Linked DNA regions of Homo sapiens. The gene in region 2 interacts genetically with the main gene of each other region. Each region holds a gene or a part of one and is shown on either strand. Other genes may lie near its edges.

The links. Genes that interact genetically often act in the same process or in processes that back each other up.
Region 1: changes in TMCO6 (region 2) and KEAP1 together harm fitness more than expected from each alone (negative genetic interaction), as found in Homo sapiens cells (one large-scale study listed by BioGRID).

Annotation. Positions count from the first base shown.
Region 1 is NC_000019.10:10,495,940-10,501,050, reverse strand, and holds part of KEAP1 (kelch-like ECH-associated protein 1), read left to right. Parts: intron 1-970; 5' UTR 971-1,017; coding exon 1,018-1,656; intron 1,657-5,111. UniProt on the Homo sapiens protein: Substrate-specific adapter of a BCR (BTB-CUL3-RBX1) E3 ubiquitin ligase complex that regulates the response to oxidative stress by targeting NFE2L2/NRF2 for ubiquitination.
Region 2 is NC_000005.10:140,641,225-140,646,289, reverse strand, and holds the end of TMCO6 (transmembrane and coiled-coil domain-containing protein 6), read right to left. Parts: intron 4,626-5,065; coding exon 4,510-4,625; intron 4,421-4,509; coding exon 4,237-4,420; intron 3,976-4,236; coding exon 3,871-3,975; intron 3,800-3,870; exon of another isoform or gene 3,705-3,799; coding exon 3,619-3,704; intron 3,384-3,618; coding exon of another isoform or gene 3,366-3,383; coding exon 3,249-3,365; intron 2,727-3,248; coding exon 2,615-2,726; intron 2,511-2,614; coding exon 2,324-2,510; intron 2,191-2,323; coding exon 2,096-2,190; intron 1,718-2,095; coding exon 1,550-1,717; intron 1,306-1,549; coding exon 1,192-1,305; 3' UTR 886-1,191; downstream 1-885. Other genes in the region: NDUFA2 (NADH dehydrogenase [ubiquinone] 1 alpha subcomplex subunit 2), read left to right, coding at 612-703.

The DNA.
Region 1 (5,111 bases), on a different chromosome or scaffold from region 2:
TCCTTGTCTCAGCTCCAACCTCACCTTCTCAAAGAGGCTTGGTCTGCCAGATTTTAAAAAACTGCACCCCGGGTCAGGCATGGTGGCTTACGCCTGTAATCCCAGCACTTCGGGATGCCAAGGCGGGCGGCTCACTTGAGGTCAGGAGTTTGAGACCAGCCTGGCCAACATGGCGAAACCCAGTCTCTGCTAAAAATACAAAAACTAGCCGGGTGTGGTGGCGGACGCCTGTAGTCCCAGCTACTCGGGAGGCTGAGGCAGGAGGATCGCTTGAACCCGGGAGGCGGAGGTTGCAGTGAGCCAAGATCGAGCCATTGCACTCCAGCCTGGGTGACAGAGAGACTCCATCTGAAAAAAAAAAAAAAAAAAGCAAACAAACTGCACCCGATTCTCACGTTGTCACAATGCTGTTGTAATTTTCTTCATGAAGCTGTTTTTCCAGGTCTTGCTTATTTTAGTTTATGATTGCTCCTCCCTGCAGTTGTCAGCTCTGGCAGGGTAGGATTTTTGTATTTTGCTCACTGCTGTGTCTTCAGCACCCAGATCAGTGCCTGGCATACAGTAGGTGCCCAGTAAATGGTGAGGCAAATGAAGGAATGAGCTCAACATGCTCTAGAAAGGGAAAGGCCGCCAGATTGCTGAAGCAGAGTGATCAAAGGGAAGAGGTGGCAGGGGCTAATTGCGTAGGGCTTTGCAGGCTGTTGAGGAGTTCAGTTTTACTAGGTACTGTGGGAGGCATTGGAGGATCCAGAGCAGGGGAGAGACATGACTTCATGTATGTTTTAAGATGGGCTCTTGGGCCAATCAGGTTGATCAGGTCGGGGAAGTTTGCAAGTTTGCAAATGGATTCTGCTTCACCTACTTTGCAGGAAAACTGACCTAGGAATTGCTTTATCTTGCAAAACGAGGCCCGGCAGGTGCTGGCCCAGTCCCAACCCCTGCCCTCTGCCCTGTGCTCTCTCCCCTCCAGGTCCCTGAGTGCCAGAGGTGGTGGTGTTGCTTATCTTCTGGAACCCCATGCAGCCAGATCCCAGGCCTAGCGGGGCTGGGGCCTGCTGCCGATTCCTGCCCCTGCAGTCACAGTGCCCTGAGGGGGCAGGGGACGCGGTGATGTACGCCTCCACTGAGTGCAAGGCGGAGGTGACGCCCTCCCAGCATGGCAACCGCACCTTCAGCTACACCCTGGAGGATCATACCAAGCAGGCCTTTGGCATCATGAACGAGCTGCGGCTCAGCCAGCAGCTGTGTGACGTCACACTGCAGGTCAAGTACCAGGATGCACCGGCCGCCCAGTTCATGGCCCACAAGGTGGTGCTGGCCTCATCCAGCCCTGTCTTCAAGGCCATGTTCACCAACGGGCTGCGGGAGCAGGGCATGGAGGTGGTGTCCATTGAGGGTATCCACCCCAAGGTCATGGAGCGCCTCATTGAATTCGCCTACACGGCCTCCATCTCCATGGGCGAGAAGTGTGTCCTCCACGTCATGAACGGTGCTGTCATGTACCAGATCGACAGCGTTGTCCGTGCCTGCAGTGACTTCCTGGTGCAGCAGCTGGACCCCAGCAATGCCATCGGCATCGCCAACTTCGCTGAGCAGATTGGCTGTGTGGAGTTGCACCAGCGTGCCCGGGAGTACATCTACATGCATTTTGGGGAGGTGAGCGGGGAAGTGGGGCTGGGGGCAGTGTCAGGAGAAGGACCAGGGATGGACGAGTGCTCATCACTGTCTCCCCTTGAGATGTCAAGGCAGGAAACTGGAGAAAAAGGAGGTTCTGGGCTGGGTATGGTGGTGTAGTCTCCACAGTTTGAGGGGCTGAGGCGGGGGGATTGCTTCAGGCCAAGAGTTCAAGACCAGCCCAGGCAACATAATGACACCCTGTCTCTAAACAAACAAACACACAAACAAAAAACAACTGGGGCCGGGCGTGGTGGCTCATGCCTGTAATCCCAACACTTTGGGAGGCCGAGGCAGGTGGATCACCTGAGGTAAGGAGTTCAAGACCAGCCTGGCCCACATAGCTAAAACCCATCTCTACTAAAAATATAAAAATTAGCCAGGCCTGGTGGCGGGCGCCTGTAGTCCCAGCTGCTCAGGAGGCTGAGGCAGGAGAATCGCTTGAACCAAGAGGTGGAGGTTGCAGTGAGTGGAGATCGAGCCACTGCACTCCAGCTTGCGCAACAGAGCAAGACTCAGTTTCAAAAAAAAAAAAAATTAAAAAACAACTGGGGTTCTGAGTTCCTTGTCTACACATGTGGGGAGACTGGTGAACAGCTGGGGAAGGTGAGGTCTTCATATGTCTCTGGGCTCCCTGGTTTCTCTGGGGTCAAAGTGGGGCAGAGTGCAGTGAACAGCAGCCAAATCCTAGGGTAGCCCAGCCTTTCGGGCAGTCAGCAAATGTTTATTGGACACCCGTGACAGGCTGCAAGCTGTAAGTCTGAACCTTAGTCATGTTTTCTTTGGTCCACACAATGTCCTTATACTGTTTTTGGTTTCGTTTTCACATTTCTCAGTGAAGGAAATTATCTATAGAAATTGACAAGAGAGGGCAGGGCCCAGTGGCTCACGCCTGTAATCCCAGCACTTTGGGAGGCTGAGGCGGGTGGCTCACCTGAGGTCAGGAGTTTGAGACCAGCCTGACCAATATGGTGAAACCCCATCTCTAATAAAAATACAAAAAAAGAAAACTAGCCGGGTGTAGTGGCATGTGACTATAGTCCCTGCTACTCGAGAGGCTGAGACAGGAGAATCGCTTGAACCGGGGAGGTGGAGGTTGCAGTGAGCCGAGATCGCACCATTGCACTCCAGCCTGGGCGACAGAGCAAGACTCTGTCTCAAAAAAAAAAAAAAAAAAGCCTGGGCGCGGTGGCTCATGCCTATAATCCCAGCACTTTGGAAGGCCAAGGTGGGCAGATCACCTGCGGTCGGGAGTTCAAGACCAGCCTGACCAACATGGAGAAACCACGTCTCTATTAAAAATGCAAAATTAGCCTGGCATGGTGGCTCATGCTTGTAATCCCAGCTACTCAGGAGGCTGAGGCAGGAGAATCGCTTGAACCCGGGAGGCGGAGGTTGCAGTGAGCTGAGATTGCGCCATTGCACTCCAGCCTGGGCAATAAGAGCGAAACTCTGTCTCAAAAAAAAAAGAAAAAGTTTTTGAAGAGATGAGGTCTTGCTCTGTCCCCAGGCTGGAATACAGTGGTGCCATCATAGCTCACTGTAGCCTCCAACTCTTGGGCTCAAGGAGGCCTCCTATCTCAGCCTCCTGAGTAGCTGGGACTATAGGTATGCAGCACCACGCATGGCTAATTTTTTAGTTTTTAAATTTTTTTGTAGAGACAGGGTCTTGCTATGTTGCTGAGACTGGTCTCGAACCTCCTGGCTTTGAACAATCCTCTGGCTTTGGCCTCCCGTAGTGTTGGGATTACAGGTATGAAGCACCATACCAACACCAGGCCAAGAAGTGTTTATTGAGCACTTGCTGTGGGCCAGCCCCTGTTCTAAGTGATTTATGTCCTTTGCATCATTGACTGTTCCCAACTGTCCTATGAGGCAGTACTACCCTTCAGCCTAGGCAAGCAGGGCAGTGCCCCAGGCCCTAAGCCTTCGGGAGTCCCATGTCTTGGTGTTCCTTCCTGGAAATTTTCTAAGTCCCCCACTGGCTGGTACCAGCTGGGATGGATGTTACACTGATCTCTATTTCTCTCCTTCAGGGATAGATTCTTTCCTACCCTCTATGTTACATGTGGGGTTGATCAGACGCCCCAGGGTTCTCTGGCGTTAGTCCTAGGGCCTGCAGCTTCTAGGAAAGTGGTCTATACAGTAGGAGAAACATATACAGTGTTTCTTTCTTGTGTTTGTATGAACATGGGGTACTAGATTAAAACTGATTACATAGACGAGTGCCTGACAACTTTTTTTTTTTTTTTTGAGACGGAGTCTCACTCTGTCACCCAGGCTGGCATGCAGTGGCACTGTATCGGCTCACTGCAACCTCCATCTCCTGGGTTCAAGCAATTCTCCTGCCTCAGCCTCCCAAGTAGCTGGGATTACAGGTGCCTACCACTATGCCCAGCTAATTTTTAAAAAATATTTTTAGTACAGATGGGGTTTCACCATGTTGGCCAGGCTGGTCTCGAACCCCTGAGCTCAGGTGATCTGCCTGCCTTGGCCTCCCTAACTGTGCTGGGATTACAGGCATGAGACACTGCGCCCACGCCCGCCCCCCACCGCCCAGTCCTTTTTTGTTTTTGAGACTGAGTCTGGCTCTATCGCCCAGGCTGAAGTGCAGTGGCAAGATTTCGGCTCACTGCAAGCCTCCATGTCCTGGGTTCAAGCGATTCTCATGCCTCAGCCTCCGAAGTAGCTGGGATTACAGGGGTGCACCACCACGCTGGCTAATTTTTGTATTTTTAGTAGAGACAGGGTTTCACCATGTTGGCCAGGCTGGTCTGGAACTCCTTACCTCACGTGATCCGCCCACCTCAGCCTCCCAAAGTGTTGGGATTACAGGCTTGAGCCACCACGCCAAGCCCCCTTTTTTTTTTTTTTGGGGGTGGGGGACAGAGTCTCACTCTGTCATCAGGCTGGAGTATAGTGGCATGATCTCGGCTCACTGCAACCTCCGCCTCTCGGGTTCAAGTGATTCTCATTCCTCAGCCTCCCAAGTAGCTGGGATTATAGGCATGTGTCACCATGCCCAGATAATTTTTGTATTTTTTGTAGAGATGGGGTTTCACCATGTTGGTCAGGCTGGTCTTGAACTCCTGACCTCAAGTGATCCGCCCGACTTGGCATCCCAAAGTGCTGGGATTACGTGTGTGAGCCACCGCACCTGGCCTTTTTTTTTTTTTTTTCTTTTTTTAGAGACAGGGTCTCACTCTGTCACCCAGGCTGGACTTCAGTGGCACGATCTCTGCTTATCACAAACTCCAGCTCCTGGGCTCAAGTGATCCTCCCACCTCAGTCTCCTGAGTAGCTGAGACTACAGGCGTGAGCTACCATGCTTGGCTAATTTTTATATCTTTTCTTGGTAGAGATGAGGTCTCGCTATGTTGCCCAGGCTGGTCTTAAACTCCTGGGCTCAAGCAATCTTCCCGCCTTGGTCTCCCAAA
Region 2 (5,065 bases):
CCTGTAATCCCAGCACTTTGGGAGGCTGAAGCAGGTGGATCACCTGAGGTCAGGAGTTCAAGACCAGCCTGGCCAACATGGTAAAACCCCGTCTCTACTAAACATACAAAAATTAGCCGGGTGTGGTGGCGGGCACCTGTAATCCCAGCTACTCAGGAGGCTGAGGCAGGAGAATTGCTTGAACCCAGGAGGTGGAGGTTGCAGTGAGTGGAGATCGTGCCACCACACTCCAGCCTGGGTGACAGAGCGAGACTCCGTCTCAAAAAAAAAAAAAAAAAAAGAGAGAGAATGGGCTCCCAGCTGAGGCTGGACCCATGCAATACATTGCTCACCGTAGTTAATAATAAATGCCTACAGTGCCCCCGAAAGCTTCCCTGAAACAACCCATTGCGGCCATCCAGAATCAGCCAAAATTCTATTTGGACTTGGGCTTCCTAGATGTGTTTGAGACCTATTGTATTAATTCTAGGCATACCAAATGTATTTTGATCATATCTCTTTAATACTCTTCCTGTCTTAACAAGACTAAGATAAAGACAAAGATCTTTTATTTTACTTTGGTAGCCTCCAGGGTGCAGAATAGTTAAAGACACCTCCCTCTCTCTCTTCAGCATTTGGCCAAGAGACGAATGTCCCTTTGAACAACTTCAGTGCTGATCAGGTAACCAGAGCCCTGGAGAACGTTCTAAGTGGTAAAGCCTGAAGCCTCCACTGAGGATTAAGAGCAACAGCCCCAGAGCCTGGGCTCTGCTGGACTTAGTATAATGTGAAAAAAATGTGTTCTCCTATTCCTCATAAAGCTTGTGCTGTAAAATACTTTCTCAGGGTGTTCTTGTCCTCATCTACCCTCTACCCCTTACTGTGCAACCACTGAGGCAAAGTAGCTTAATATAAAAATAAAACTTTATTCTGTCTCATCAAAAGCTACCAGCTGCTGAAGCAAACATGAAGGGTGGCGGGGGGGCAGGGATTCTAGGGCCCCAGAGTAAGTAGACCACACTGAGTCCCTTTTGGTCCTCCTGCCTGGATAGTGCTGAGTGGAAGGGGAGGAGCTGGGACCCAAAGGTCTTGGCTTAGGTGTGGGAGCAGAGAACATGAGACCTCATTATGGTCCTAAATCTCCAAAGGCTCTACTGGACAAACAAGCTTGATGTTAAGAGAGAGGGGAATGAGTGACATTGAGAAACAAGATCACCCTTGAAGAGCTGTCTGCTGGAGAGCATACACACGATCCTGGAGCTGGGCCTCTTCCTGATGCCTTTCCAGGGCTTGCAGCCCTGACTGCTGCAGGAAGACCTGAACAGCCTAGGGGCAGGGAAGAAAATTCAACACACCTGGTCTCTGTGTCCTAAGACTCAATTCCCACAGCCTCATGGGTCAGCCTACTCCAGAGGGTGCATTCCCCAACAAGAGGATGAAGTTTCTGACATGGAACCTATATAGGTTAGCCAGGCCCAGAGAAACAACTATAGTTAGGACTGGATGGGAAGGGAGCCACTGTGTGGCTTCAGAACAGGGGTGACTGAGGATGTGGGCCAGAAACCTATACCTCTGGCTGATACAGGAACAGCAGATGCAGCAGCTCCAAACTCTGGCCTACTACTTCAGTGTCAGAAAAGGCTAGTGTGTGCAGCAAGGCGGGAAGCAGGGGCCCTGGCCACAGCCGCTGGCAGTAAGCAGGACCCTTTTCTGCAACATTGCACAGAACTGTGAGCACCTGCAGATAGACACATATATAGTCTACAAAGAATGAAACACAAAGATCATAACAATAGCTAAAATATATGACATGGTGACCACATGCCCAGGCACCATGCCAAGCTCTTCTACATACATGTTCTCATACTCCTACAACTACCCTATGATGCAAGATTATCCTCAGTTATAAGTGAGGAGACTGAAGCTTAAGGTGGTTAGTTGATTTGTCCAAGGATAAATAATCCAGTTTAAGGGACACACACCTAGATTGGTTGGGCCCTGAGGCCACACACCACCACCTGCTGGCTCTCAACTAAGGGTACATCTGAGGGCTCAGGACTGCTGTCCCATACAATCCGACTACCAGATCTTGGATTCAAGTAACCCCAATACATACCATTACGCTCACCACGTTAGATACTGGCAACAGCTGTAAGAGAGGCTCAATCAGATCCAGGGAGAGCAAGGAGGTACAGAAACTAGGACTGTTTGCTGGAAGAGAAGTACCAGGGTGAAAAACTGCTTTCCCCCACCACCCCTGTCAATACTACCCACCTCAGCCTAGGCCATGAGGAAATATCCCCATTATCCAAATGTCCAGGCCTGGGCAGATTATGGTGCGTACCAGTGAGGTTGTTGAGGAGCCAAAGGCCCTCAGGGAGCAGACTGGGCTGTTTCTGGAAAAAGAACTGCAGAAGGATAAATAAGGCTGCCACAACACGCTCATCTCTGAGCTGCATTTGCCCTCCCACAGTCTCCACTGCTGCCTCAGTTAGCAGGTTGCTTAGACATCGAAGCACGGGGCATGCCAGCTGCAAAGACAAATTGGGGGGTCAGGTGTAAGAAGGAAGAGGTTACCTGCATTCCAGAGTATCAAGAAACATCTCCCAGAATTTCACCTGACATCTTCACCTACCAGCTCCAGTCCTGCATCCTCGGTTTTCTGGACAGCCCCAGCCAAGTCCAACAGCAGCAACCCCAGAGTAGACAGAGCCCCATGGCCAATGAGCAGAGGATTGCTGACCTGGCTGGGCAACAGGAAGCAAGCAGTCCCTAGGTATATAGTCAATTCCACCTTTAAGAAGAGAAGCAGTTGCCTAGGCGTGGTGGCTTATGCCTGTAATCCCAGCACTTTGGGAGGCTGAGGTGGGTGGATCACCTGAGGTCAGGAGTTTGAGACCAGCCTGGCCAACATGGCGAAACTCCGTCTCTATTAGAAATACAAAAATTAGCCGGGCATAGTGGCACGCATCTGTAGTCTCAGCTACTCAGGAGGCTGAGGCAGGAGAATCGCTTGAACCCGGGAGGCAGAGGTTGCAGTGAGCTGAGATCGCACCACTGTACTCCATCCAGCCTGGGTGACAGAGTGAGACTGTCTCAAAAAAAAAGAGAAACAGCTAAGGTCTGTGGGTCTCCTGGGCTCCAAAAAGAGAAGACAGTGGAGGGAGGAAAACTCACTATAGCAATTCCAGACACAAGTTCAAAGAGTTGAATGTCATGGAAGGGAGCCCCAGGGAAGATCTGTGGTACTTTCCCAATTGCCCTGTTACCTGCAGATGATGTAATGAAGGCACCAGGCAAACTCCACAGCGACCCCAGGGTTGAGCTTTGGGCCAGGTTGCAACATTTGTAGCATGTGCTGAGGGAGAGTGGAGGCCAAGATGGAGCTGCTGGCAGAAGCAGGGCTGTAAGTAGGAACCACGAAGATGCCAGTGGTTCTTACCAAACCCTGATAGCAGGTGGGAGAGTGTCCAAACCCAAAGCCCTGCCCAGATGGGAAAGTGTCCAAACCCAAAGCCCTTCCTAGCCAGACACATGAATTTAAAATGTGCAACAGCTTTGGAAATCATTCAGGCATCCGGGAGCTATACTACTGAGTGGGTCACCTCTGGCTGCACATCTAAAGACAATTTTACTCACGGAATGATCTTCTCTGGAGCTTCCTCAGCCTGTAGAAGCTGGGACAAGGCATATCCGAGAGCTTCCAGCACAGCCACATGGGGGGACTGGAAGTAGACAGGGTAAGGATCTGACTGGAAGCTGGGTCATCAGGTCTTCAGAGACTTTCAGCCCCTTGGCACAGGGCAGAGGCTGGAGCTACCTAACCAAAGTAGATGGAGCATGTGGGGAGGAGCAAAGGAAGGGTTGCCCAGGGAGGAAGAAAGGAGTCACCTGGATGCAGGCAGCCAAGGCTGGAACAATGCCCTGTGGCAGGAGCTGCCTTCTCACAGCCTCACTCTCCACGATCAGGTTACCCAGTGTATACAGACACAGCTCCTGAGAACAGGCAACAAAAGCACTGGGCTTGGCCTGTTTCATGCCAGGCTGCGTGTGGGGAGATGGGGAGGGGAGGTGATGGGGACGCTGGAGCAGCTATCCTTGCGGCTCACAAGAGGGTGGGGAGATGATGGGTGTAGCCATGGCTGTAGGCATAAGGGCAAACATGTTTTCTTCCTCCTACCTGCCAGCTCAAACTGGTCCCAAAAGCACAATTTTAAAATCTAAACCAAGAACAAGATAGGAAGGGACAGGGCTTACTATGAAGTCTGAGCTGTGACTGGAGAGGTAGGTGAGGAGGTAAGAAGTGGCTGGCAGGCAGGCCTCAGCAACAGTGGACTGCTCGGAGTGAGAGAGCTCATGCAGGCACCGAGCCGCCTCAAGCTGCAGCAGGGCCTGGTTGCTGGTCAGGAGCCCGACCAGGGTCCGCATGCTGCCCTCCAGCCTATGTGAGTGAGTACCAGAGCCCTGCTTAGCTTGTGGTCCATCCCTCAGAGCCCCAACTCCTCCCTCCACCACACCATCCACACTGACCGGATGAAGGTTTGCTGTGTTTCAGGGTGCTGCAAGCCTCGACGAAGGCTGACCAGAGCCCCCTCTCTCTCCTTTTCCTCTGTCCCCCGCTGGGCTTGCCGCAGGAACTGCTGCACCTGGAGTTCAGGGCAGGGAAAGGAGAACACACGGTTCACAGAAAGCAAGTCCTAAGTCTCTCTCTGCCCACTTCACCTGTGAGCCTTCCAATATCACACCTTCAGAACTTGTCATTCACACTAATGCAACTAATAAGCATCTACCTTGCAGTGGAGTGGACAGAGAATCAGAACTGAGTTCTAATACCATACCTGCCACTTACTCCATATGGGACCTGAACCTAAGTTTCCTCACCTGAAAATGAGAATAACAATATCTATCCTGCCTTCATACAGGGTTCTTTCAAGGATATTTAAACCTCTCAGCCTGGCAAAACCTACTCCTCTAGCCATTCTCCCCATGCAACCTACACTCTAACAACAACCAGCCTAACATGAGCTTTTTCTTTTTCTTTTTTTTACATTTCCGAGCTTTTGCACATGCTATTTCTTCTGCCTGG